Regions from separate parts of the Homo sapiens genome. Here all the other regions are linked to region 1. Evidence: fine-mapped expression QTL. A gene starts in region 1. Each other region holds a variant in brackets. All regions are shown on one strand. Distances are between the middles of the regions. Region 1 holds the start of HPD (4-hydroxyphenylpyruvate dioxygenase). Region 2 has its middle 9.3 kb from the start of PSMD9. Region 3 overlaps BCL7A (BAF chromatin remodeling complex subunit BCL7A).

Region 1 (8,176 bases):
GTCAGCTGCGGGGCTCCTGGCATCTCAGTGGTGCCGACAGCAGGAGGGGTGGGGGCACCAAAGGGAACTCACCGTCTGCAGCACAGCAAACTTCACCTTCCCAAACTTGTCTTGCTCTACCCAGGGCTCCCGCATGATTTTGGCGCCCCGTTCCCGTGCTTTCTGCAGAGAAGATGGGATCGGGGAATTGGTGAGGGCTGGAGCCTTCCAGAACCCTTGCCTGCTGCTCCTGCCTGGTGGCCTCTGCGTGGTCCTGCAGGCCCCTCCAGTTTCTCCAGCCCCAGGTAGGAACCCCAGCCAGCTTCAGCCATTACCCCCAATACTCATGCTCATTTGGCAAATAGGGAAACTGAGGCCCAGGCCCAGAGTTGGGGCTATGGGAGACAAACTAGGTAGGGATGGGTGTCTGTCCTGCCTCTGCTAACTCCCCCTGTGATCAGTCCCCTTCTCTAGTCCTCAATTTCACCATCTGTAAAAAGAATGGTTGGATGAGAATAATAAGAAGATTCATGCATTTATTTAGCAAAACTGGACTGCATGACAGTGCTTATATCATGCACCAGGCTCTGTTCTAGATTCTAACCTCGTTCATCCTCACAGCAACATTATGCAAAAGTACTATTATCATCTCCATTCTCTAGGTGAGGACGTTGAAGCACAGAGACATTAAGTCACTTGCCCGAAGTCACACGGCTAAGATTCAGACCTGGAGAGCCTGGCTCTGGAACGCACACTCTGAATCTGTAGGCTGCCTGTTGGGTACAGTGTTTGGTTTAGAGTTGTGCTCAAGAAACAGTAATTCTGAGGCCAGGCAAAATGGCTCATGCCTGTAATCCCAGCACTTTAGGAGGCCGAGGTGGGTGGATCACTTGAGGTCAGGAGTTCAAGACCAGCCTGGCCAATATGGCAAAACTCCATCTCTACTAAAATACAAAAATTAGCTGGGCATGGTGGCAGGCGCCTGTAATCCCAGCTACTCGGGAGGCTGAGGCAGGAGAATCGCTTGAACCCAGGAGGTGGAGGTTGCAGTGAGCCAAGATTGCGCCACTGCTCTCCAGCCTGGGCAACAGAGCAAGACTCTGACACACACACACACACAAAAGAAAGAAAAAGAAAATGAAAAAAGAAAAAAAAGGAAATGACCAGCCTGACCAACAAGGAGAAACCCCATCTCTACTAAAAATACAAAACTAGCCGGGCGTGGTGGCGCATGCCTGTAATCCTAGCTACTTAGGAGGCTGAGGCAGGAGAATTGCTTGAATCCAGGAGGCAGAAGTTGCGGTGAGCCGAGATCGTGCCATTGCACTCCAACCTGGGCAACAAGAGCAAAACTCCGTCTCACAAAAAAAAAAAAAAAAAAAAAAGGAAATGGTAATTCTAATTTCCTCCTTTGACAACCCAGCTGTGGTTAGCCCCATCTGGCAGCTGTGGAAACTGAGGCTCAGTGAGAGAGAGGACACGGGGGAAGGCAGGGCACCCCCGGAGCCCAGGTGTGTGTCACACCAGCATCTGGGCTTGTCACTGTGATGCAGCATCTGGGCTTGTCACTGTGATGCAGCATCTGAGCTTGTCACTGTGATGTGGCATCTGGGCTTGTCACTGTGATGCAGCAGTGTCCTTCCAGCCCTGACTGATGGGGTCCCCATGGCAGACGGAGGCCTTCCTCTCTCAGTCCACCCAGGTGCTTTCTTACCTGCACGATGTAGTCACAATCTTCCACCTCGAACGCAATGTCCTTCACTCCGTCACCGTGTTTCACCAGGTGATCGCCCATCTCTGTGGCCGGCAGGGAGAGGATGGCACTGGAGTCTGGAGTCTAGGTCCCCTCACCTGGCTTTTAGTCTCCATCCAGGCCCTGAACCCAGAGCCCACCCACGGAGCCATGCGTCCACCCTCCCAGAACCCAGATCCCACCCACAGAGCCATGCGTCCACCCTCCCCGGGCACCTCACCTTTGTTCCAGGGGTTGAGCGCTGAGGAGAGGACAAACACAATCTAAGATAGGAGGAGAAGGAGGTGAGGCTAGTGGCTCAGGGGGGCATGGGGAGGTGCACCCATCGGCCCCTCCCTGCCGACCCGAAACACCCCTGATGGAGCACAAGAACTCCTGGACCTGGGTTCTAGCTCCTTCTCTGCCTTAGTTTCCCACACTGGTCCTGAGGGATGGGGCTTTCAGCCAGACCCCCTCTGGATCCTCAGAGGAACTGCTAGGTCAGGTCTCCCTCGGGGAGAGAACTCCAGGGACCCCATCGGTCAGGGCACTGCTTAAAATTCCTCTCCTCTGATATCCCAGGTTTTCTGAGCACCTGTGGGGTCAGTGTTGGGCCAGGCTGAGGAGGAAACGAAACTAGGAAGGGCCGTGTTGCATGGCTGTACAAAGATGCCAGCGGAGGGGTCGGTGGGAGCTGAATTATATGTTTTTGTTGTTGTTGTTGGGGTTTTTTGTTGTTTTTTGTTTTTTTTTGTTGAGATGGAGTCTTGCTCTGTCGCCCAGGCTGGAGTGCAGTGGCACGACGTTGGCTCACTGCAACCTCTGCCTCCCGGGTTCAAGCGATGTGCCTGCCTCAGCCTCCTGAGTAGCTGGGATTACAGGTGCCCACCATCATGCCCAGCTAATTTTTCTATTTTTAATAGAGATGGGGTTTCACCATGTTGGCCAGGCAGGGGTTGGGGGCTGTCCTGGGGGTGGTGACTCACCTTCCCTTGTTTGATTACATGGCTGACCACCTCCCGGGAACCGGTCTCCAGGCCCCTGTAGGCTAGAGGTTCAAAGCCCATCTTGCTGCAGTAGAATGACGTGGCCTGAATCACAGGGTTGCAGCAGGGTTCATGAGGGTCAAGGGGCCAGCATGGGGGACTTCCGCAAGAGAGCCCCTGGCCCCCCTCAGCCTGCCTGCCCTATTGCCTCAGGGGCAGAGACCCTCCTGGGAAGATAGACTGCTGCCTGCACATTTTGCTGACAGATAACTTTCCCGCTGGTGTAATTAGGATTCAGAGTATCTGGCCCACCCCTGGCCTGATCCTCCCTCCCAAGGGCCAATCACAGACCCTGCTGGAGGCCTGCCCTTGTCAGGCAGCCCTCTGCCCTGCCGTCTGCTCACTCCAGCACCTTGCCCCGGCTTCTACCTGCTTGGCGTTGCCAACCCAGAAGGTCACAGAGTGGAAGTGGAGGAATCGGCCTCTCTCAGGCTGCAGAAGGAGAGAAGAGGTGAGGTTGAGTCCCTGAAAGTGAGTCTAGAAAAGTGCGGGTGGAGTGATGTCCCCTAGCCACCCTCCTTATTCCAGCCTCAACCACAGAACTTAGGAGCAGCGGAACCCCATGCAGCCTTGCCAAGCCTCAAAAGAGGTTTCTCATGTGGAAGTTGAGCTCCTGGGTGTCTTGGATGGGGAAACCCCCTCAGGAGGCCTGCCAAGGTTTCACACAGGGAAATAGACTTATGTTGCAGCAATATGGATTTAAGTTAGACCTTAGAAAGAACTTCCAGATGGGATTAAAAGATTGGCAGGCATTTGAGAAGGGGTACAGGTTTTGTTTTGGTTTTTGTTTCTGAGATGGAGTTTTGCTCTATTGCCCAGGCTGGAGTGGAGTGCAGTGGTGCAATCTTGGCTCACTGCAACTTCCGCCTCCCAGGTTCAAGCGATCCTAGGGTTCAAGTGATCTCCCCCACCTTAGCCTCCTGAGTAGCTGGGATTACAGGGGTGCGCTACCATGCCCGGCTAATTTTCGTATTTTTAGTAGAGACGGGGTTTCCTCATGTTGACCAGGCTGGTCTCGAACTCCTGACCTCAAGTATTTGCCTGCCTTGGCCTCCCAAAGCACTGGGATTACAGGCATGAGCCACCATGCCCGGCCAGGATACAAGTTTGTTGTGAGGGTGAGGTTGAGTCCAGCTCAGTCTCGGGGAGCCCCGGGGGTAAAGCTGAGTGTGCAGGCATGCACGTCATGTATCCACTCCAGTCCTTCCTCTTCTGCTCTCTGCTGAAACCCCAGTCTCCCTGCACTCCGACCCCCTTCTAGACTCAGGCCCCTACATTTCCCACATTTCGCCTGCTTACCTTTGCCCCTTTGTCACTGTAAGTCGTCTAAGGAGAAAAAGAAGGACAGTGAGACTTGGAGGTTCCAACACAAGGTGCTTCTGGAAGCGTTACTGAAGATGTCCCACCCAAGGGGAGATGGCCATGGCACTTACCATGATTGATCTTAGTCAAACCTCCTACTGGGACTAGAGGCCTGGGGAGTGCTGGGCCGGAGTATTTAACCCCAAGCAGGTCCCGCCCAGGCCTCCTGGCCTACCTGGGGGATGGGGTGGGGAGCTGAGCCCAGCCCTGGAAGGTTCCAGGCCTGGGGACCTCTGATCCAGCCGCAGCCTCATTGAACAGGATGGTGTTGCCAGGCCCAGAGAGGGGCAGTGACGTCCACTAGTCAGTGGGAGGCAGAGTCAGGGCCAGAAGCCAAGGGCAAGCTTTTCCAGGACGCTGGGAATGTGACCATTACTGCCCAGAATCCAAAGCTCAGAAGCCAAGGCCGGCTGGAGTGCAGTGGCGGCTCCAGAACTCTTGCCTAGAGGAAATTTGAGGGGGCATTTGGAGACTGGCCCCAAAGTCCTGTTTGCGTCACAGCGTTGTATTCCATAGCTCTGAGAGGCACGGCAGGAGAAGGTTTGCATCCTGGCTCTGTTACATACAGTGTGACTTGGGAAAATCACCATATCCCTTTGAGCCTCATTTGTAAAACAGGAATGAGAATAGTGTGGTGGGGATTAAAGGAGATAAGCACGCTCTTTGGAACAGGACCTGGCACACAGGACACTCTCAGTGTTGGTTATAATTCATTGGGACAGAGAACATTCCTAGGCCATGAGGTCAGCAAGCGGCAGGGAAGAACTGGAACATGAACCGGGCTATTCTAACTCCAGGACCCACACTTTAAATTGCTAGATTGCCCTCTATACAAATGGGAGATATTGATATCCCCATCAGATGGGGAAACTGAGGCCTGGAGAGGTGAACACATGTCTCCCAGGTCATGGAACTGGTAAGAGCAGAGCCCCAAACTCTGGCCTGTTTGATTCTGAAGTTGGATCTCATTGCACCAGTGCAGACCACTTCTCCCTCCTTTTCTCTATTTTCTGGGCCATTCAGGAGGCAGGCAAGGTGGTCCCACCCCCTTATTCTGCCTGTCCTGGGCCTGCCCAGTGTGCTCCCAGTGTCCACCTCAGCTCCTTAAGTCTAAATTTCCAACTGGGGGCCGGGGGTGGTGGCTCACGCCTGTAATCCCAGCACTTTGGGAGGCCAAGGAGGGAGGATCACTTGAGGCCAGGAGTTTGAGACCAGCCTGGCAACATGGTAAAACCTCATCTCTACTAAAAATACAAACATTAGCTGGGCACGGTGGTGCACGTCTGTAGTCCCAGCTACTCAGGGGACTGAGGCAGGAGGATCACTTGAACCAAGGAGGCAGAGATTGCAGTGAGCAGTGATCATGCCACTGCCCTCCAGCCTGGGTGACAGAGTGAGACTCCATCTCAAATAAATAAATAAATATCCAACTGGGAAAACTTGAGTGGAGGTGGCCCAGGGTGGATCTCACAGGCCCAGAAGGTTCCCATGGAGGAGAAGAGCTCTGTGTAGCCTGCCTATCCCCTCCAGGCCAGCAGGAACATCTTGTCACTTTGATTGCTGTGGCCAACTCAAACCCCCACTCCTGGAGCCTGCCCTGGCTTATATGCTAAGCACAAAGGCCAATGTTTACTAACTCAAGGAAGTGTGTCAACAGCAGTGGGTTGCAAAGGCTGGCAGGCATCTAGAGGTAGGAACTCTGTCCCCAACACTGTAGGTCTCAGTCCCATGCTGGGTGCACCCCTAGATGCCATTCACATGTCTGGGCAGAGAGCAGGGAGGCAAGCCTGCAGGGCCCAGTATCCAGAGTCCCCTCCCTGATGCTCTCTGTTCAGGCTGGGCTCCACTGGATAACAGATCAGCAGTGGCTGGGTGTGACTGTCTCTGTTCTTCATGCCCGACCATGCAGAGGTGGGTTCCAGAGGCCTTGCTCAAGAAGCTCACTGATCAGATGGGTTCATAGGACGCATCCTTGAAAATACCCTGGTGTGCAGAAAAGCATTCACCTAGCTGGGCCTGGTAGTGAGCACCTGTAGTCCCCAGCCACTCAGGAGGCTGAGGTGGGAGGATCACTTGAGTCCAGGAGTTAAAGGTTGCAGTGAGCTATGATCACGCCACTGCACTCTAGCCTGGGGAACAGGGTGAGAACTTGTATCAAAAATAGATAAGGCAGGGCCCAGTGGCTCACACCTGTAATCCTAGCACTTTGGGAGGCCGAGGAGGGAGGATCACTTGAGGTTAGGTGTTCGAGACCAGCCTGGCCAACATGGTGAAACCCTATCTCTACTAAAAATACAAAAATTAGCCTGGATGCAGTGGCTCATGCCTATAATCCTAGCACTTTAGGAGGCTGAGGCGGGTGGGTCACCTGAGGTCAGGAGTTTGAGACCAGCCTGACCAATATGGTGAAACACCGTCTCTACTAAAAATACAAAAATTAGCTGGGCATGGTGGCAGGCACCTGTAGTCCCATCTACTTGGGAGGCTGAGACAGGAGAATTGCTTGAACCCAGGAGGTGGAGGTTGCAGTGAGCCGAGATCATGCCACTGCACTCCAGCCTGAGCAACAGAGTAAGACTCTGTCTCAAAAAAAAAAAAAAAATTAGCTGGGTGTGGTGGTGTGTGCCTGTAATCCCACCCAGCTACTTGGGAGGCTGAGGCAGGAGAATCACTTGAACCCAGGAGGTGGAGGTTGCAATGCGAGATTGTGCCACTGCGCTCCAGCCTGGGCGACAGAATGAGACCCTGTCTCAAAATAAAGAAATAAGTAAGTAAGTAAGTAAATAAAATGGAACAAGTCTCAGTTACTGATAGTTCTTACTATAGTGTTTGCTAATATTACAGCTTCTGGAAAAAAACATGAAAAAGAGGCAATCTCTAAATGGAGATACACTTTCAGGGTTTTAAAAAGCAGTTTTTAGTTGCTAATGAGCCCTTGTGAAACCACACAGCTGACCCTTAGAGTCATGATTTTCTAGCTGATAGGGATCTTTTTACAGGCGTCCACCCGGGCTCTGAAACTGACAGACTTAAAGGGCTTAAGAAAGCCTCGCTTCGCTCTTAGCCTCGAGACAAACAGTCTCTTGGCTTAGCTACTGCAGAAGAAAATCCTGAATTCACGAATTCTAGTTTTCCAAACCTGATCCCAAGCTGAAAGCTCTGCAAGGGGACGGTTGCTTGAGCCCAAGAGGTCGAGGCTGCAATGAGCTATGATCGCACCACTGCACTCCAGCCTCGGTGACAGAGTGAGACCCTGTCTTAAAAAAAGAGAAAAAAAAATGCTGAAACCTGATGCTGTCTGCTGTGAGCTGTTTCAGTGTCAGCATGAATTCTGCCAAACTAAAAAAATGGGCAAAATTGCTCCACTCAACACACAGGACTTTAACTCTAGGACCCTGGCAGATTAGAGACATCCCTCCCTGGGGCCATATGCTGTGCAAACATCGTGGATGCTGCTGGACAGTGTGGGTCACTTACAGATGTCCATGATGAAAGAGTTCCTCTCTAATGGGACCATTTACATTGGGCTGCTCTTCAGCTCTGCATTTCTTTTTTTTTTTTTTTTGAGACGGAGTCTCGCTCTTGCTGCCCAGGCTGGAGTGCAATGGTGCGATCTCGGCTTATTACAACCTCCGCCTCCCAGGTTCAATCGATTCTCCTGTCTCAGCATCCCAAGTAGCAGGGATTACAGGCATGTGCCACCACGCCCAGCTAATTTTGTATTTTTAGTAGAGATGGGGTTTCACCATGTTGGTCAGGCATGTCTCGAACTCCTGACCTCAGGTGATCTGCCCACCTCGGCCTCCCAAAGTGCTGGGATTACAGGCGTGAGCCACCGCTCTCGGCCTTTTTTTTTTTTTTTTTTTTTTTTTTTTTGAGACAGAGTCTCCCTCTGTGGCCCAGGCTGGAGTGCAGTGGCGTGATCTTGGCATCTCGGCTCAATGCAAGCTTTTTTTTTTTTTTTTTTTTTTTTTAGGCTGGAGTGCAATGGTGCAATCTCGGCTCACTGCAAGCTCCACCTCCAAGGTTCACGCCATTCTCCTGCCTCAGCCTCCGG
Region 2 (8,176 bases), 21 kb after region 1:
TTCTTTTTTTTTTTTTTTTGAGACATGGTCTCACTGTGTCACCTAGACCGAAGTGCAGTGGCTCAATCTCGGCTCACTGCAACCTCCATCTGCCAGGCTGAAGCAATCCTCCTACCTCAGCCTCCCAAGTAGCTGGAATTATAGGTATGTGCCACCAAGCCCGGCTAATTTTTGAATTTCTTATATAGACAGGGTTTCACCATGTTGCCCAGGCTGGTGGCAAACTCTTGGGCTCAAGTACACTGCCCACTTCGGCGTCCCAAAGTGTTGGGATTACAGGCATGAGCCACTGCACCTGGCCGGTATGGTCAATTTCGAGTATCAACATGAAGTCATTGAACTTGGGGTTAAGCTAAGTACAGTACATACCAAACGGATACAAACAGAAGTAAATAACCCCAAAAGCACAGATGAGGCTGGGTACATTGGCTCACATCTATATTCCCACCATTTTGGGAGGCTGAGTCTGGAGGATCATTTCAGTCCTGGAGTTCAAGACCAGCCTGGGCAACAAAGCAAAATCCCATCTCAAAAAGAACAGAGTAGAGAAGAGAAGAGACAGCATTGGTGATACTAAAACTTAGTAAAAATGATTAGGAAGTTGAGGCCAGGCGTGGTGGCTCACGCCTGTAATCCAGCACCTGGGAAGGCCGAGGTGGGAGGATCACCTGAGGTCAGGAGTTTCAGACAGGCTTGGTCAAAATGGCGAAACCCCATCTCTACTAAATATACAAAAATTAGCTGGGCGTGGTGGCGGGCGCCTGTAGTCCCAGCTACCTGAGAGGCTGAGGCAGGAGAATCGCTGGAACCCAGGAAGTGGAAGCTGCAGTGAGCCAAGATTGTGCCACTGCACTTGAGGCTGGGCCACAGCGAGACTGTGTCTAAAAAATAATAATAATAAAAACTGGCCCACAAACTTCCTGGAGAATTGACCGTGGGCTCTCCTGAGTGAATAGGAGCTACTTCCCTGCTTTCGTTGCCTGAGGTTTAGAGGTGGGAGGCCCCCATGATAGGGAAAACAGCCACCAGGGAGGCCGAACAGCTGATACGGGATCAAGGCCCGGGGTACATCAAAGGGCTTTTCCTTCCTCTCAGGCTAAATTACCATCACGTCAGTAGCTCCATCACTTGCATAAGCGGAGGGTAAGGTTACTCAAGCCCAGCCATCGATCCCTTTCAGGCTGAACCTGTGTCCTCATCATCCAAAGTCCCCATGCTTGCATACGTCTCCCACCCTTCAGTTTGGAGCACTGACTTTCATCGTTGGCAAGGGCAATGGGGAGTTCTCTTTGGCCTCTGATTTGCTGAATTGCCTTCAATACATGGCTTAACCTCTCTGAACCCCCATCCCCATTTCCGAGTCTTAGGAAGAACTGTGGCAGGGCGCGGTGGCTCATGCCTGTAATCCCAGATCTTTGGGAGGCTGAAGTGGGCTGAAGTGGGAGGATCACTTGAGGTCAGGAGTTCGAGACCAGCCTGGCCAACATGGTGAAACCCCGTCTGTACTAAAAATACAAAAATTAGCCGGGCATGGTGGTGCACGCCTGTAAGCCCAGCTACAAGGGAGGCTGAGGCAGGAGAATTGCTTGAACCCAGGAGGCGGAGGTTGCAGTGAGCCAAGATTGCGTCACTGTACTCTAGCCTGGGTGACACAGCAAGACTCCATCTCCAAAAAAAAAAAAAAAAAAGAACTGTTATGAGTCTCTGTTACCTACAGGGATAGAAGTGAGTGACTACATGTCCAGTGCTTTGCATGCAACACAACCACCCTGTGAGGGAGGTATTATTCTACCCATTGTACAGTTGAAGAAACTGAGACTCAGAGAAGCTAACTGGCTCATACTAGTAGGTAGAGTTGGGATTCATCTCTCCTTACCCCAAATCCTAGTTTTTCATCCTTTCTGGTGTGCCTTACTGCCTCTAGAGCCCCTCCAGATTTTTACAAATGAGAGGGGTGTGAGAGGCTGCTGGCCACAGACCTGAAACCTAAATGTGCCAGGAGAGCAACAGAGAAGAGCTGGGTGAGGTTGGGCGCGGTGGTTCACGCCTGTAGTCCCAGCACTTTGGGAGGCAGAGGCAGGTGGATCACTTGAGGCCAGGAGTTCGAGACCAGCCTGGCCAACATGGTAAGACCCCCATCTCTACTAAAAATACAAAAATGAGCCGAGTGTGGTGGCACATGCCTGTAATCCCAGCTACTCAGGAGGCTGAGGCACCAGAATAGCTTGAACTTGGGAGGTGGAGGTTGCAGTAAGCTGAGATCGTGCCACTGCGCTCCAGCCTGGGTGACGGATTGAGACTCTGTCTCAAAATAATAATAATAATAAACAGAAGAGCTGGGTGGGATTGGGGAAAGCTGCATCCCACCCCCACACTCTGCCAACGAGGGCAGTAACTTAGCTCCAGACAGTTGTTGCCTGTGGGTACATGGGCCTGGTGTGGCCGGATTTTGTTCAAAAGAAGTTAGCAATGTGAATTTTTATGTGAAATCCTTTGATTTGAAGATTGTCTTGTTTTGAATTCTATTTGTATGAAATATCCAGAATAGGTAAATCCACAGACCCACAGTGCAGACTGGTGGCTGCCGGGCTCTGCGGGGAGGGAGGAAGGGAAAGTGACTGCTTAAGGAGAATGGGTGTCCTTTTGGGGTGATGGAAAGAAGTATTCTGGAACCAGATAGAGGTGGTGGTTGCACAACATTGTGAATTACTAAATGCTGCTGAATGTTTTCACTGTTTTGTGACTCTCATCTCAATAAATTGAATTGGTTTTAAATTTTTCTTTATGATTTTGTGCGTTTTTAGATATTGGGAAATAGCATTTTTATTGAAGATGAGTATACATGGAGAAGTGCATAAGTGTATAGCTCTGAATTGTCACAAACAGAACACACCTGTTTAACCAGCTCAGCTATGTGGTTTTTTGTTTGTTTTGTTTTTTTATTGAGATAGTCTCACTCTGTCGCCCAGGCTGGGGTATAGTGGTATGATCTTGGCTCACTGCAACCTCTACCTCCTGGGTTCAAGCAATTCTCCTGCCTCAGCCTCCCAAGTAGCTGGGATTACAGGCGTACGCCACCACGCCCGGCTAATTTTTGTATTTTTAGTAGAGATGAGGTTTTGCCATGTTGGCCAGGCTGGTCTCAAACTCCTGACCTCAAGTGATCCACCCACCTCAGCCTCCCAAAGTGTTGGGATTACAGGCATGAACCACTGTGCCCAGGTTACAGATATGTGTTTTGGTTTTTCGTTCTTTTTTTTTTTTTTTGAGACAGGTTCTCACTCTGTTGCCCAGGTTGGAGTGTAGTGACACCATCATAACTCACTGCAGCCTCAAAATCCTGGGCTCAAGTGATCCTCCCACCTCAGCCTCCCCAGCAGCTGGGACTACAGGCATGTGCTACCACACCAGGCTATTTTTTTTTCCTTTGGCAAAGATGGGGGTCTCACTATGTTGTCTCGGCTGGTCTCAAACTCCTGGGCTCAAACCATCCTCCCGCCTTGGCCTCCCAAAGTGTGGAGATTACAGATGTGAGCCACCATGACTGACTTATTTTGTTCTTTAATACATAACTTATAGGCCGGGTGAGGTGGCTTCTGACTGTAATCCCAGCACTTTGGGAGGCTGAGGCGGGTGTATCGCCTGAGGTCAGGAGTTTGAGACCAGCCTGGCCACCTTGGCGAAGCTCTGTCGCTACTAAAAATACAAAAATTAGCCAGGCGTGGTGGTGGGCACCTGTAATCCCAGCTACTCAGGAGGCTGAGGCCAGAGAATTGCTTGAACCCAGGAGGCGGAGGTTGCAATGAGCCGAGATTGCACTCCAGTCTGGGCAACAAGAGGGAAAATCTGTCTAAATAAATAAATAAATAATTAATTAAAAAATAACTAATACAACTTGGTTGGGGCGGGGTGGGGGGATGAAAATACACATAATTAAGAGGAAAAAAAAGTAAAGAAAACAAGCCTACTGATAATCCTTCATCTACAGACAACCACCTTGGATGATCTGGGAATGCCCACCCAGACTACTCTTTTCTTTTCTTTCCTTTTCTCTTCTGTTCTCTTCTCTTCTCTTCTCTTTTTTCTTTTCTTTTCTTTTCTCTTATTTGATGGGGTCTTTCTCTGTTGCCCAAGCTGGAGTGCAGTGGTGTGATCAGCTCAGTGCAGCCTTAAACTCCTGGGCTCAAGGGATCCTCCCATCTCGGCCTGAGTAGCTGGGACTACAGGCAAGCACCACCATGCCTGGCCCACACAGACTACTTTCTAAAAATGTATAAACATATATAGATATGACAAGATATACAGATAATGATACATATGATTTGATA[C/A]TTATGCTAATTTTTTTACATATACTTTGTAAACACTTTTGTCATGGCAATAAATACACATGTTCACCTGGTGTGTGTATATGTGTGTGTTTCATTGAAAAGCTATACTGGGTGGGGCCAGGTGCAGTGGCTCATGCCTGTAATCCCAGCACTTTGGGAGGCAGAGGTGGGTGGATCACTTGAGCCCAGGAATTCGAGACCAGCTTGGACAATGGCCAGAACAGATCTCTACAAAAATTTAAAAATTAGCTGGGTGTGGTGGTGTATGTATATGGTCCCAGCTATTGGGGAGGCTGAGGTGGGGGGATTGCTTGAGCCTGGGAGGTTGAGGCTGCAGTGAGCCATGATTGCACCACTACACTCAAGCCTGAGTGACAGAGCGAGACCCTGTATCAAAATGAAAAAAAGAAAAAAAAAAAAAAAGAAAGGCTGTACCATGATTTCTTTTTTCTTTCTTTCTTTTTTTTTCAGATGGTGTCTTGCTCTGTCGCCCAGACTCGGGTACAGTGGCATGATCTCGGCTCATTGCAACCTCTGCCTCCCAGGTTTAAGAGATTCTCCTGCCTCCGCTTCCCTGGGATTACATGCGCCCACCATCACACCCAGATAATTTTTGAATTTTTAATAGAGATGGGGTTTCACCATCTTGGCCACGCTGGTCTTGAACTCCTGACCTCGTGATCCACCCGCCTTGGCCTCCCAAAGTGCTGGGATTATAGGCGTGAGCCACCATGCCCGGCCTGTACCATGATTTCTTTAACCAGCTCCTAGAATCAAGCATTACCAAGATCTTCCCATTAGAAACAGCATGGATGGTGATCTAGCTCATTTGAATGTAGAGTTTAATGCTCTTTAACAATTGCTTTATTAAATTACTCTGAATTTATATTAATAAGTATCTTATTACTATTTTATGTTTTGTAGAGACAGAGTCTTGTCATGTTGCCCAGGCTAGTCTCAAACTTCTGGCCTCAAGTGATTCTCCTGCATTGGCCTTCCAACATGCTAGGATTACAGACATGAGCCACCATGCCAGGCAGTATCTTATTATTGTTATTATTTTCAAGGGTCTCAATCTGTCACCCAGGCTGGTGTGCAGTGGCGTGACCTCAGCTCACTGCAACCACTGCCTCCCAGGCTCAAGCAATCCCCCCACATCAGCCTCCCAAGTAGCTGGGACTACAAGTGTGTCCCACCACGCCAGGCTAATTTTTTGTATTTTTAGTAGTAGGATTTCGCCATGTTGGCCAGGCTGGTCTCGAACTCCTGACCTCAGGTGATCTGCCCACCTTGGCCTCCCAGTGTTGGGATTACAGGCGTGAGCCAACGTGCACAACCCAGTATCTTATTTTTAAAAATTACTTTCTGCTCTGCTCCACGCTCTGCCCAGGTACTAAATATTAACACCCTCACAGGTATAACTGCTTCCCTTTTTCCATTCTATGGGGGAGTTGACTTTACTGAATAAAAATAGGATGATTTACTATGTGGGTCTCTGCATCTTACTTTTCCAAATGCTTAATTATTGGCAACTGTGGTGGATATTCCTTTAGCCCCTCCAAATCTCTTCCCTCCCTGCCCTTCTCTGTGCCCCAAGCCTTATCACCTTCAGCCAACCTGAGACCCTGGCAGGAAAGGAGAGGAGAGACAAGTGGGGGTATCTCTTCCTTGGCTTCCTCCCTGCCAGACGTTGTTTTAGCAGCTGTTTTAGCAGCAGCTATGTCCCTGTACTGAAGGCCACACTCCTGTTGGGTGACTACAACTCTCTCTAGGTTTCCAAACCCTCCCTTCTCTTGCCCCTTTAGGCTTAAGGGGTGGGGTAAGAGACCCCATGCTCACCAGCCCCAGGTGGCTTCATTATCCTTATCTGCTCCCATGACTTTGTTTTTTTGTTTGTTTGTTTGTTTTGTTTTGAGATGGAGTCTTGCTCTGTCGCCAGTCTGGAGTGCAGTGGTGCGATCTTGGCTCGTTGCAAACTCCGCCTCCCGGGTTCAAGCGATTCTCCTGCCTCAGCCTCCCAACTAGCTGGGACTATAGGCATGTGCCACCATGCTCAGCTAATTTTTTGTATTTTTAATAGAGACAGGGTTTCACCATGTTGGCCAGGATGGTCTTGATCTCCTGACCTCATGATCCGCCCACCTCAGCCTCCCAAACTATTGGGATTACAGGCGTGAGCCACCGCGCCCAACCTAATTTTCGTATTTTCATTAGAGATGGGGTTTCACCATGTTCGCCAGGCTGGTCTTGAACTCCTGACCTCAGGTGATCCTCCCGCCTAGGCCTCTCAAAGTGCTGGGATTACAGGCATGAGCCACTGTGCTGGCCTGATTAAGCAACTAATTTACAATTCTTAAAAACTTTTAGGGGGCCAACTCATGAGCGAGCCTGCCACCTTTATGGCTGTCAGAGTCCAGACCCTTGTTTTATAGATTCAGGAAACGAGGGGAGGATTTGTCGTTTGTAGGATTCCTGGGCCAGAGTGAGGTGAAACATGGAAAGTGTGGTGGTCCTCAAGTCAGGCAGTATGAATTCTGACCAACCAGGTCTCGCCAGGGATCTCTAGTTCCCTGGCTCTATTTCCCATGTGTTTGTCTCTTGGCCTACCTCTCGTTCTGAAATGAAGATGAGCAAGATGTGAAAGCTTGAGAGAGGCAACTGAAGTTCTCCTAGATCTTGGCAGCTTTCTAAAACAAAGGTTTTGCTGGGCTGTCTGTGGCCACTGCAGGGAAGATGAAACAGAACAACTGGAAAGGGGAAAGACAGCTCTCTCAGACTGTTCCCTTGCAATCCTCAAACAGTCCAACATTTGAAGATAAACAAGCCTCAGTCCACATTCTCTAAGAATCTCCAGTGCATGGGACAGACAGGTAAACATGCATTTACAATACCAAGTGAAAAGTGCAGAAAACAGCCCAGCTGTGGGGTGGGACACATAATGATTTCCAGGGAGGTAGTATTTCTTTTTCTTTTTGTTTTTGAGAGGGATCTTTTTCTTTTTGTTTTTGAGAGGGAGTCTTGCTCTGTTGCCCAGGCTGGAGTACAGTGGTGTAATCTCAGCTCACTGCAACCTCTGCCTCCCAGCTTCTCCTGCCTCAGCCTCCTGAGTAGCTGGGATTACAGGCACCTGCCACCAAACCCAACTAATCTATTTTAGTAGAGATGGGGTTTCACCATGTTGGCCAGGCTGGTCTTGAACTACCGACCTCAAGTGAGCCACCCGCCTCGGCCTCCCAAAGTGCTGGGATTACAGGTGTGAGCCACCTCACCCAGCCTTGAGCTGGATCTTGAAGGAGAGGTTCAAGTCAGCCTGGCCTGAGATGGTGTTCCAGGGTGGGAAGAGCAGGTGCTAAGACCCAGTGCTAAGAGAGACTGAGCAAAAAACGTGCCAGAAACTGTTAGAAGTTCAGCATGGCTGGAGCATAAGTTGTGTGTGTGTGTGTGTGTGTGTGTGTGTGTGTGTGTGTGTGTGTGTGTGTGTGTGGTGGGGTACAGGGATGGGAGGTGGTCTAAAGGCAAGCAGAGATCAGGAGTCTTAAAGGCCAAGAGAAGGGCACTGAAGCCATTAAGCAGTAGCGTGCCAATGTCACTCTTGGGAAGGTTGTTCTGGCTGCTTTGGAGACTGGGTTAAAGTGCGCAACCTGAGACAGTTCAAAGACTGCCCAATCAGGAGGAAGAGGTGGCGGGGTAGGAGTAGAGGTGGAGGAGATGGGTGGATTTGGGAGCTATGAAGGCAGTCACAGGATAGAGGTTTATTATAATGACAGCAATATTGACAAGCTCATAATGTAGTAACCTAACAACAGCTCTCTTTTCAGACCGCATGGGTAAGAATCTTCTCCTCACCC
Region 3 (8,176 bases), 180 kb after region 1:
GTCAAGAAAGCCCCCCCAACCAGCCATACAATCATAGTTGGGTTATGTTTCATTTTCAGAAATAGATATGTGAGCTGGGATGTGGCCTGTCTCAGTGGCATTCCTTAGCATCCCCTTTCCCTCTGGGGACTGGGGAGACCCCACGCCCGACTCAGGACTGAGGTTGGATTACAGACGCAGAATTACACCAGAGGGCCTTTTCGAGCTGAGGCCAGGACCCCACCTGGGTTCACATCCTAACTCTCCCTGCACCTTCCCCTGGCTGTGTGATCTTGGGCTATTTGTTTAACCTCTAGCTTTGGGGTTTGTTTAGTTTTAATCTGTAGAATGGGGATGGTAATGCCTACTTCATAAACTCACTGTGAGGATTAAATTAAATAATCTCTTAAAAACCTTGGCATGGGACCAAGCACAGTGGCTCACACCTGTAATCCCAGCACTTTGGGAGGCCGAGTTAGGAGGATCACTTGAGCCCAGGAGTTTGAGACCAGCCTGGGCAACACAGGGAGACCTCATCTCTACAAAAAAAACAATAGGTGGTTCGTATCTATAGTCCCAGCATTCTGGGAGGCCAAGGCGGGCAGATCATGAGGTTGGGAGATCGAGACCATCCTGGCTAACACGGTGAAACCCCATCTCTACTAAAAATACAAAAAAATTAGCCAGGCGTGGTGGCTGGTGCCTGTAGTCCCAGCTACTCGGGAGGCTGAGGCAAGAGAATGGCGTGAACCTGGGAGGTGGAGCTTTCAGTGAGCCAAGATCACGCCACTGCACTACAGCCTGGGCGACAGAGCAAGACTCAGTCTAAAAAAAAATAGATTAAAAAAAAAAATAATAATAATAATAAATTTAAATTAGCAGGTTGTGGTGATGCGCACCTATAGTCACAGCTACTCTGGAGGCTGAGGATCATTTGAACCTGGGAGTTGGAGGCTGCAGTGAACAGTAATTGCACCACTGCATTCCACTCTGGGCAACAGAGCAAGACCCCATCTCTTAAATATATATATATATATAATATATATATTATATATATTATATAATATAATATATAATATAATTATAGTAAATATTTTATTTTGGGCCAGGTGTGGTGGCTCATGCCTGTCATCCCAGCACTTTAGGAGGCCGAGATGGGAGGATCATTTGAAGTCAGGAGTTGGAGACCAGCCTGGTCTCTATGGTAAAATCCCATCTCTACTAAAAATACAAAAATTATTGGGTGTGGTGGCACACGCCTGTAATCCCAGCTACTTGGGAGGCTGAGGCAGGAGAATCACTTGAACCTGGAGGCAAAGGTTGCAGTGAGCTGAGATCATGCCACTGCATTCCAGCCTGGGCGACAGAGCAAGACTCCATAAAAAAAAAAAATTATTTTACTGTATTCAAAAATAGAGACAGGGTCTTGCTATGTTGCCCAGGCTGTTTCCAAACTCCTGAGTTCAAGCAATCCTCCTCCCTCAACCTCCCAAAGTGCTGGGAGTATAGGCATGATCCACTGTGCCCAGCCTATAATAAAAATTTTAAAAACCTTGGCATGTTAACAGCTCACATTTATGAAACCGTCACAATGTGCCAAGTATTGTGCTAAGCCCGTTACATCATTGCCTCATTTGAGTCTAATAACCAACCGCATTTTACAGATGGAGAAACTAAGGCCCAGTGAGGTGAAGTAACATGCATGGTTAGCAAGTTCATAACTTCCAGTGCCATTGATGGCATTTGAGGTTGGTTCTTTGAAGACAGAATCCAGGTTTGTGGCTGGCCGTGGTGGCTCACACCCATAATCCTAGGACTTTGGGAGGCCAAGTTGTGAGGATCGTTTAAGGTCAGGAGTTGGAGAGCAGCCTGGCCAAACAATGGTGAAACCCCATCTCTACTAAAAATACAAAAATTAGCCGGGCATGGTGGTGGGCACCTGTAATCCCAGCTACTCGGGAGGCTGAGGCAGGAAAATCCCTTGAATCGGGAAGGGGAGGTTGCAGTGAGCCAAGATTGCACCACTGCACTCCAGCCTGGGCAAGAGAGTGAGGCCGTGTCTCCAAAAAAAAAAAAAAAAAACCAAAAGATCCAGATTTGTGACCTGGATAAACTCTCCAGAAAAATCTAGGATGCTGAACAAACCAGGTCCCCAGACACAGGTGCCCTGTTGACTTTCTGATTTTCATTTTAGTGCACGTGCAGCCGAAAGCCAGTCAGACTGCAGAGTGTGTAAATGGGAAGGTCAGGGAAAGGTGTGGGCCGGGCAAGTTTTCTGGAAGGCTTCAAGTGGGAGGATGGGTACAGCAGGGGATGAAGGAGAGGGCGGTGCCCCGGGCCCTTTAGTCCACAAGACTCAGCTGAAGTTAGCCCAAGTATCAGGGTCACGCTGTTACCAGGCTACCAGGCTAGACCAGACGTTAAACATTAGTGCTCATTGTCATTCATTAACAGAGCCTCAGGAACCTACGGGGCCAGCCTCTTGCGCGTGTGCTTGCCATAGGAAGGAAGTCTAGTTTTTCTCAAGGGAGAAATCGGGGAGCACACATCCTTCTTTTTTTTTTTTAAGTCCCAGAATTCACAAGAGGATGCTTTTGTGTAACGAGCACCCCAGAGTACAGTTAAAATCAGATCCAGGTTACCCGTGTGGGGCCGCCTGACTGCCTGGTGCTTCCTCGGCAGGTTGAGGTAGAGGAGGGGCGTGGGGCTGGGAGTTGGGCAGATGGGTCCGGCAAGTGGCTCTGCTGCTCCCAGCCTCAGTTTCCCCCTCCGGAAAGTGAAGGTGGTAACGGTGCCTTTCCAACGGGTTGTGGGGAGGATTCCACGAGGTGTCCATAAATGCTTCTGCCCAGTGCCTGGCATGGTGGCAGGTGCCCAGGTCTGTTGGGGTGTCTCTGTCTCTTTCTCATGTTTACAAAAGTGGCCATCGCCCCGGGTGCAGCATGGCCCCCAGAAAGGCTGCTTTGGTTTTGAAACCTCCACTTGGGTCTCTGCTGTTTAAAACGACTCTCCTAGGTTGGGCACAGTGGCTCAGGCCTATGATCTCAGTGCTTTGGGAGGCCAAGACAGGAGGATCACTTGAGCCCAGGGGTCCAAGACAGCCTGGGCAACATAGTGAGACCCCATCTCTACAAAAAACTTAAAAATTAGCCAGATGCAGTGGCACATGCCTGTGGCCCCAGCTACTCAGGAGGCAGAGGCAGGAGGATGGCTTGAGCCTAGGAGTTCGAGGCTGCAGTGAGCTATGATTGTGCTGCTGTACTCCAGCCTGGGCAACAGAGCAAGACCCTGTCTCTAAAAATAAAAAATACATAAATGGCTGGGTGTGGTGGCTTACTCCTGTAATCCCAGCACTTTGGGAGGTTGAAGCGGGCAGATCACCTGAGGTCAGGAGTTCAAGAGCAAGCCTGACCAACATGGCGAAACCCCGTCTCTACTAAAAAATAATAAAAACAAAAGTTAACTGGGCATGTTGGTGCATGCCTGTAATCCCAGCTACCTGGGAGGCTGAGGCATGAGAATCGCTTGAACCAGGAGGTGGAGATTATAGTGAGCCGAGATCGCGCCACCGCACTCCAGCCTGGGTGACAGACTCCATCTCAAAAAAATAAATAGAGTGACTCTGTGCCTGAGAAGGGGGTGCAGGACAAGGGGAGGTGCAGCCC[G/A]GGCCCCAGCTCTGCCCCCAGCCCAACTGTAAATGCCATTGCCCAATTACCCCTTCTCTTTCTTCTTTGTATTGTGAAGGGTTTTGTTGTCAAGAACAGTAGAGAGAGGAATACGATCCCCCTGTACACTCCACCTTGATTTTCATGAACACGGTGCCACATTTGTCTCATCTATTTTTTCAATGTGTTAGATTTTTGTAATTAAAATATAATTCACATATAAAAAATACACAGCTAGTGGCCGGGTGTGATGGCTCACACCTGTAATCCCAGCACTTTGGTAGGCTGAGGTGGGCAGATCACCTGAGGCCAAGAGTTCGAGACCAGGCTGGCCAACATGGAGAAACCCGTCTCTACTAAAAAATACAAAACTCAGCCAGGTATGGTGGCAGGCGCCTGTAATCTACTTGGGAGGCTGAGGCAGGAGTATTGCTTGAACCCAGGAGGTGGAGGTTGCAGCGAGCCCAGATCGCGCCATTGCACTCCAATTTGGGCGACAGAGCAAGACTCCATCTCAAAAAAAAAAAAAAAAAGTGTAAAAGTTCAGGGAGTCCTGACAGTGGCCGGCAGCCTGCACTGAAGTATTTTCTGGTAAATTTCCCTGCCTCATGACATTCAAGTCTGCACCTAAACGTCATAGCATGCATTGCTGAAAATATGACGTTTCTACATACCCACTGTCCCATGATCACTTCTAACTAAATTAACAACAGTTCCTTAATAGCTTTTAAAACCCAGACCATATTCAAATTCCCCAATTGTTCCAAAGTGTTACAGCTGGCACGTTTGAAACAGGATCCAAATCATTTCCATACATCATATTTAGTCGAGTCTCCTAGCTTTCTTTATTCTAAAGTCATCTCCCCTCCCCCAACTTTTTTTTTTTTTTAAATATGATACTGACTTTAAGGGAGTGGACCACGTGTCCCGTGGAATATGCCACCTCCCGCTGTCTCTCTCTCCCTTTTATTTCCTATCAAGTGGAACTCAGCTCCAGGCTGGATGCAGTCAGACAGAACGCCTTGGCAATCCCGCCTCACGGACCATGCCGTGTCTTCTGTATCGCTTCCCTGCCAGACACACAAGACGTCTGGTTTCTACACCCAGAATGAGGCCTCAAATGTCCCCCCAGGATTTTAAATATGTTAGGCCACCATCCCCAGCTGGCTGCCTCCAGACGCAGGGTACAGTTGGCTCAGTGTGGGGAAGGTCAGGCCAGTGCCGGAATTCTTTGCCTCTCTGGACACATGGGATGGCTGTGGTGCTTGGGTGGGTGGGTGGGTGGGGGTCAGGGGGCGGGAGTGAGCTCAGGGGTCCCAGGAGGAGGCGTATCCAGTATCCAGACCCCTACCACACGGCCGGGTGCAGTGGCTCAACGCCTGTAATCCCACCACTTTGGGAGGCCGAGGCAGGAGGATTACCTGAGGTCAGGAGTTCGAGACGGGTCTGGCCAACATGGTGAAACCCCATCTCTACTAAAAATACAAAATTAGCCAGGCGTGGTGGCAAGTACCTGTAATCCCAGCTACTCGGGAGGTGGAGGCAGTGAGCCAAGATTGCACCACGGTCCTCCAGCCTGGTTGACAGAGCGAGATCCGTCTCAAAAAAAAAAAAAACGGTAACCAGACCCCTCCCCGGGAGAGCTGCCATGGGGTTCCGGGCATTGAGGCACAGGGATGCTGAGCCCTCTGACCTACCCGTCCTTGGCAGCTGTGGGATTTCATCCTGTGGTTCTGTTCCCACCCCCTACAGACGATAACAGCAACCAGAGCTCCATCGCAGATGCCTCCCCCATCAAACAGGAGAACAGCAGCAACTCCAGCCCCGCTCCAGAGCCCAACTCGGCTGTGCCCAGCGACGGCACCGAGGCCAAGGTGGATGAGGCCCAGGCTGATGGGAAGGAGCACCCAGGAGCTGAAGGTATGTGGCCTCTGGAGGTGGGGCTCTGACGGCCTCCCTGTAACCGGCCTTCAGGCAGTCTGTGGCTAGGTGTTCCAGGAGGCCCTGTCATGTGCCAGCCCCAGCAAGGAGACAGTAAAGAGAGGTGACACCTGGAGTACATGGTCTCGTGGGGGAATTAAAAAAATCAGACAGGCCAGGTGCAGTGGCTCATGCCTGTAATCCCTGCACTTTAGGAGGCCAAGGTGTGAGGACTGCTTGAGCCTAGGAGTTCAAGACCAGCCTGGGCAACATAGCAAGACCTCATCTCTACCAAAAAAAAAAAAATAGCCAAGTGTGGTGGCACACACCTGTGATCCAGCTACTCAGGAGGCCGAGGTCGGAGGATCACTTGAGCACAGGAGGTCAAGACTACTACAGTGAGCCATGATCATGCCTCCGCACTCCAGCCTGGGTGACAATAAGACCCTGTCTCAATAATAAGTAAATAAATAAAAATCAAACAATTGGCCAGGCATGGTGGCTCACACCTATAATCCTAATGCTTTGGAAGGCTGAAGCAGGAGGATCACTTGAGGCCAAGAGTTTGAGACCAGCCTGGATAGCATAGCAAGACCCTGTCTCTACAAAAAAATGCTTTAAGATGAGCTGGGCATGGTGGCATGTGCCTGTGGTCCCAGCTACTCAAGAGGCTGAGGCGGGAGTATCCCTTGAGCTCAGGAGTTGGAGGCTGCAGTGAGCCGTGATCACACAACTGAACTCCAGCCTGGGTGACAGAGTGAGACCCTGGCTCAAAATATAATTATATTAATAAATTTTAAATGTATTTAAAAATCAGACAACCTAGTATTAGGAAGATAAGTGTGGCAGAGAATTATAAAGTAGGAAAGGGGTGGGGGGTCTTGCTGAATGACCTGGAGAGTTGCAGTTTTAAATGGGGTGGTCGGGGCGGCCTTTGAATAAGACAAGGCTCAAACTGGGCGACTGAGCAAGCCATGTGGGGATCTGGGAGGAGAGCAGTGTGGGCAGAGGTAAGAGTGAGTGAGGAGCTGGAAAATAAGATGGGCACCAGGCGCGGTGGCTCACGCCTGTAATCCCAGCACTTTGGGAGGCCGAGGCAGGCGGATCACTTGAGGTCAGGAGTTCAAGACCAGCCTGGCCAACACGGTGAAACCCTGTCTCTACTAAAAATACAAAAATTAGCAGAGTGTGGTGGCATGTGCCTGTAATTCCAGCTAGTCAGGAGGCTGAGGCAAGAGAATCACTTGAACCCAGGAGGCGGAGGTTGCAGTGAGCCGAAATTGTGCCATTGCACTCCAGTCTGGGCGATAGAGCAAGACTCTGTCTCAGAAAAATTTTAAAAAGTTAATAATAATACGGGGTCAGACAGCAGGCAGCGCCTCAGGTGTGGGGGGCTCGTAAGGCCACTGCCTGGCCTGGGTTTTCATGGTAAGACGGGAGCCACTGGGGGCTTGGGTGACATGATCTGAAGGATTAAGAACAGATGATGGGGTGATTGTGTGAGAGTGTGTGTGTGATTGTGTGAATGTGTACACAAATATTTGTGTGTGTTTATTTTGAGTCTCTACAGAAAAATTAAAAGAATGGCATAATACTGTCCTATATATCCACCTGCTGAACTTGGCAATTGTTGGCTTTTGGGTTTCTTTTGCTTTGTATTTTTTCTGGGACCATTTGAAAGTAAGTTATAGATCTCAGGACATTTCATCCCTAAACATGTCAGCACGTGTCTTTTAAAAATAAAGACATTCTGGGCTGGGCACAGTAGCTTATGCTTATAATCTCAGCACTTTGGGAGGCTGAGGCAGGAGGATCTTTTGAGCCCAGGAGTTCAAGACCACCCTAGGCAAGAAGACGAAACCCCGTCTCTACAAAAAATATAAAAATGAGCCCGGCATGGTGGCATGCGCCTGTAGTCCCAGGAGGATCGACTGAACCTGAGAGGTCGAGGCTGCAGTGAGCCATGATTGCACCACTCCAGCCTGGGTAACAGGGTGAGACCTTGCTAAAAAAAAAAAAAAAAAAAAAAAGGCATTCTCTTACAGATTTACAAATACCGTTACTGCATCTAAGAAAATGAGCAGCATTCCGGATGGTCTAACATGGAGGTATATTTTGAAGGTGAGGGGAGAGCCTGTGTTGGGCAGTACATAGGGGTGAGTGCGGACCTGAGGGCAACTCTGGGCACCTGGAGGGACAGCAGTGGCTGAGCGGGTCTGGGGAGGGCAGGCCAGGTCTGGAGCGCCTTGCACACCCATGAGGAGCTGGCGAGCATGGAATGTGGAATGGCAAATGTGACCAGCCTGCAGCTAGGGCCACCCCAGGGCTCAGGGCGTGTGTGTCCTGGGAGCAGCCAGTGTGGTTCTAGGAGAAAGGCTGTCCCCTGCTGCAGAGCTGATCCGCACCCCTGTGCAAGGAGGCTCTGGGCTGGCGCCAGGGCCCCAGTCATAGCTGCACTCTGCTTCCTGCACCCCAAGAACCCATAGGTCAGCAGGGGAGACAGACACTGGAACGAAGGACTCATTGGCAGAGATGCAGACAGACTCTATCCAGCCCGTGGTGTGAGAATCTGGCTATACAGAACCCTGCAGTATCATTTTTTAAATTTGAAT

The links.
Region 2: its variant is fine-mapped to the expression of HPD in whole blood (INTERVAL, PIP above 0.99).
Region 3: its variant is fine-mapped to the expression of HPD in fibroblasts (GTEx, PIP above 0.99).

Annotation. Positions count from the first base shown.
Region 1 is chr12:121,854,631-121,862,806 of GRCh38, forward strand. HPD (4-hydroxyphenylpyruvate dioxygenase) reads right to left here and starts at 4,229. Exons shown (of 14, transcript NM_002150.3): 1 at 4,191-4,229; 2 at 4,057-4,083; 3 at 3,127-3,189; 4 at 2,698-2,802; 5 at 1,953-1,995; 6 at 1,694-1,776; 7 at 73-162. The coding sequence starts at 4,193. TIALD (transcript inducer of AURKA lysosomal degradation) reads left to right here and starts at 1,623. Exons shown (of 3, transcript XR_002957437.2): 1 at 1,623-2,016; 2 at 2,989-3,208. RefSeq lists enhancers at 1,151-2,350, 5,371-5,888, 5,889-6,405 and silencers at 1,166-1,345, 7,393-7,687.
Region 2 is chr12:121,875,425-121,883,600 of GRCh38, forward strand. It overlaps a transcript of HPD not described here. Among named protein-coding and RNA genes, the nearest start is that of PSMD9, 9.3 kb to the right of the region's middle. RefSeq lists a silencer at 1,039-1,333. The variant C/A (reference allele first, on the strand shown) is at 4,329.
Region 3 is chr12:122,038,490-122,046,665 of GRCh38, forward strand. It overlaps BCL7A (BAF chromatin remodeling complex subunit BCL7A), which reads left to right. Exons shown (of 6, transcript NM_001024808.3): 4 at 5,397-5,564. Among named protein-coding and RNA genes, the nearest start is that of BCL7A, 21 kb to the left of the region's middle. The variant G/A (reference allele first, on the strand shown) is at 3,645.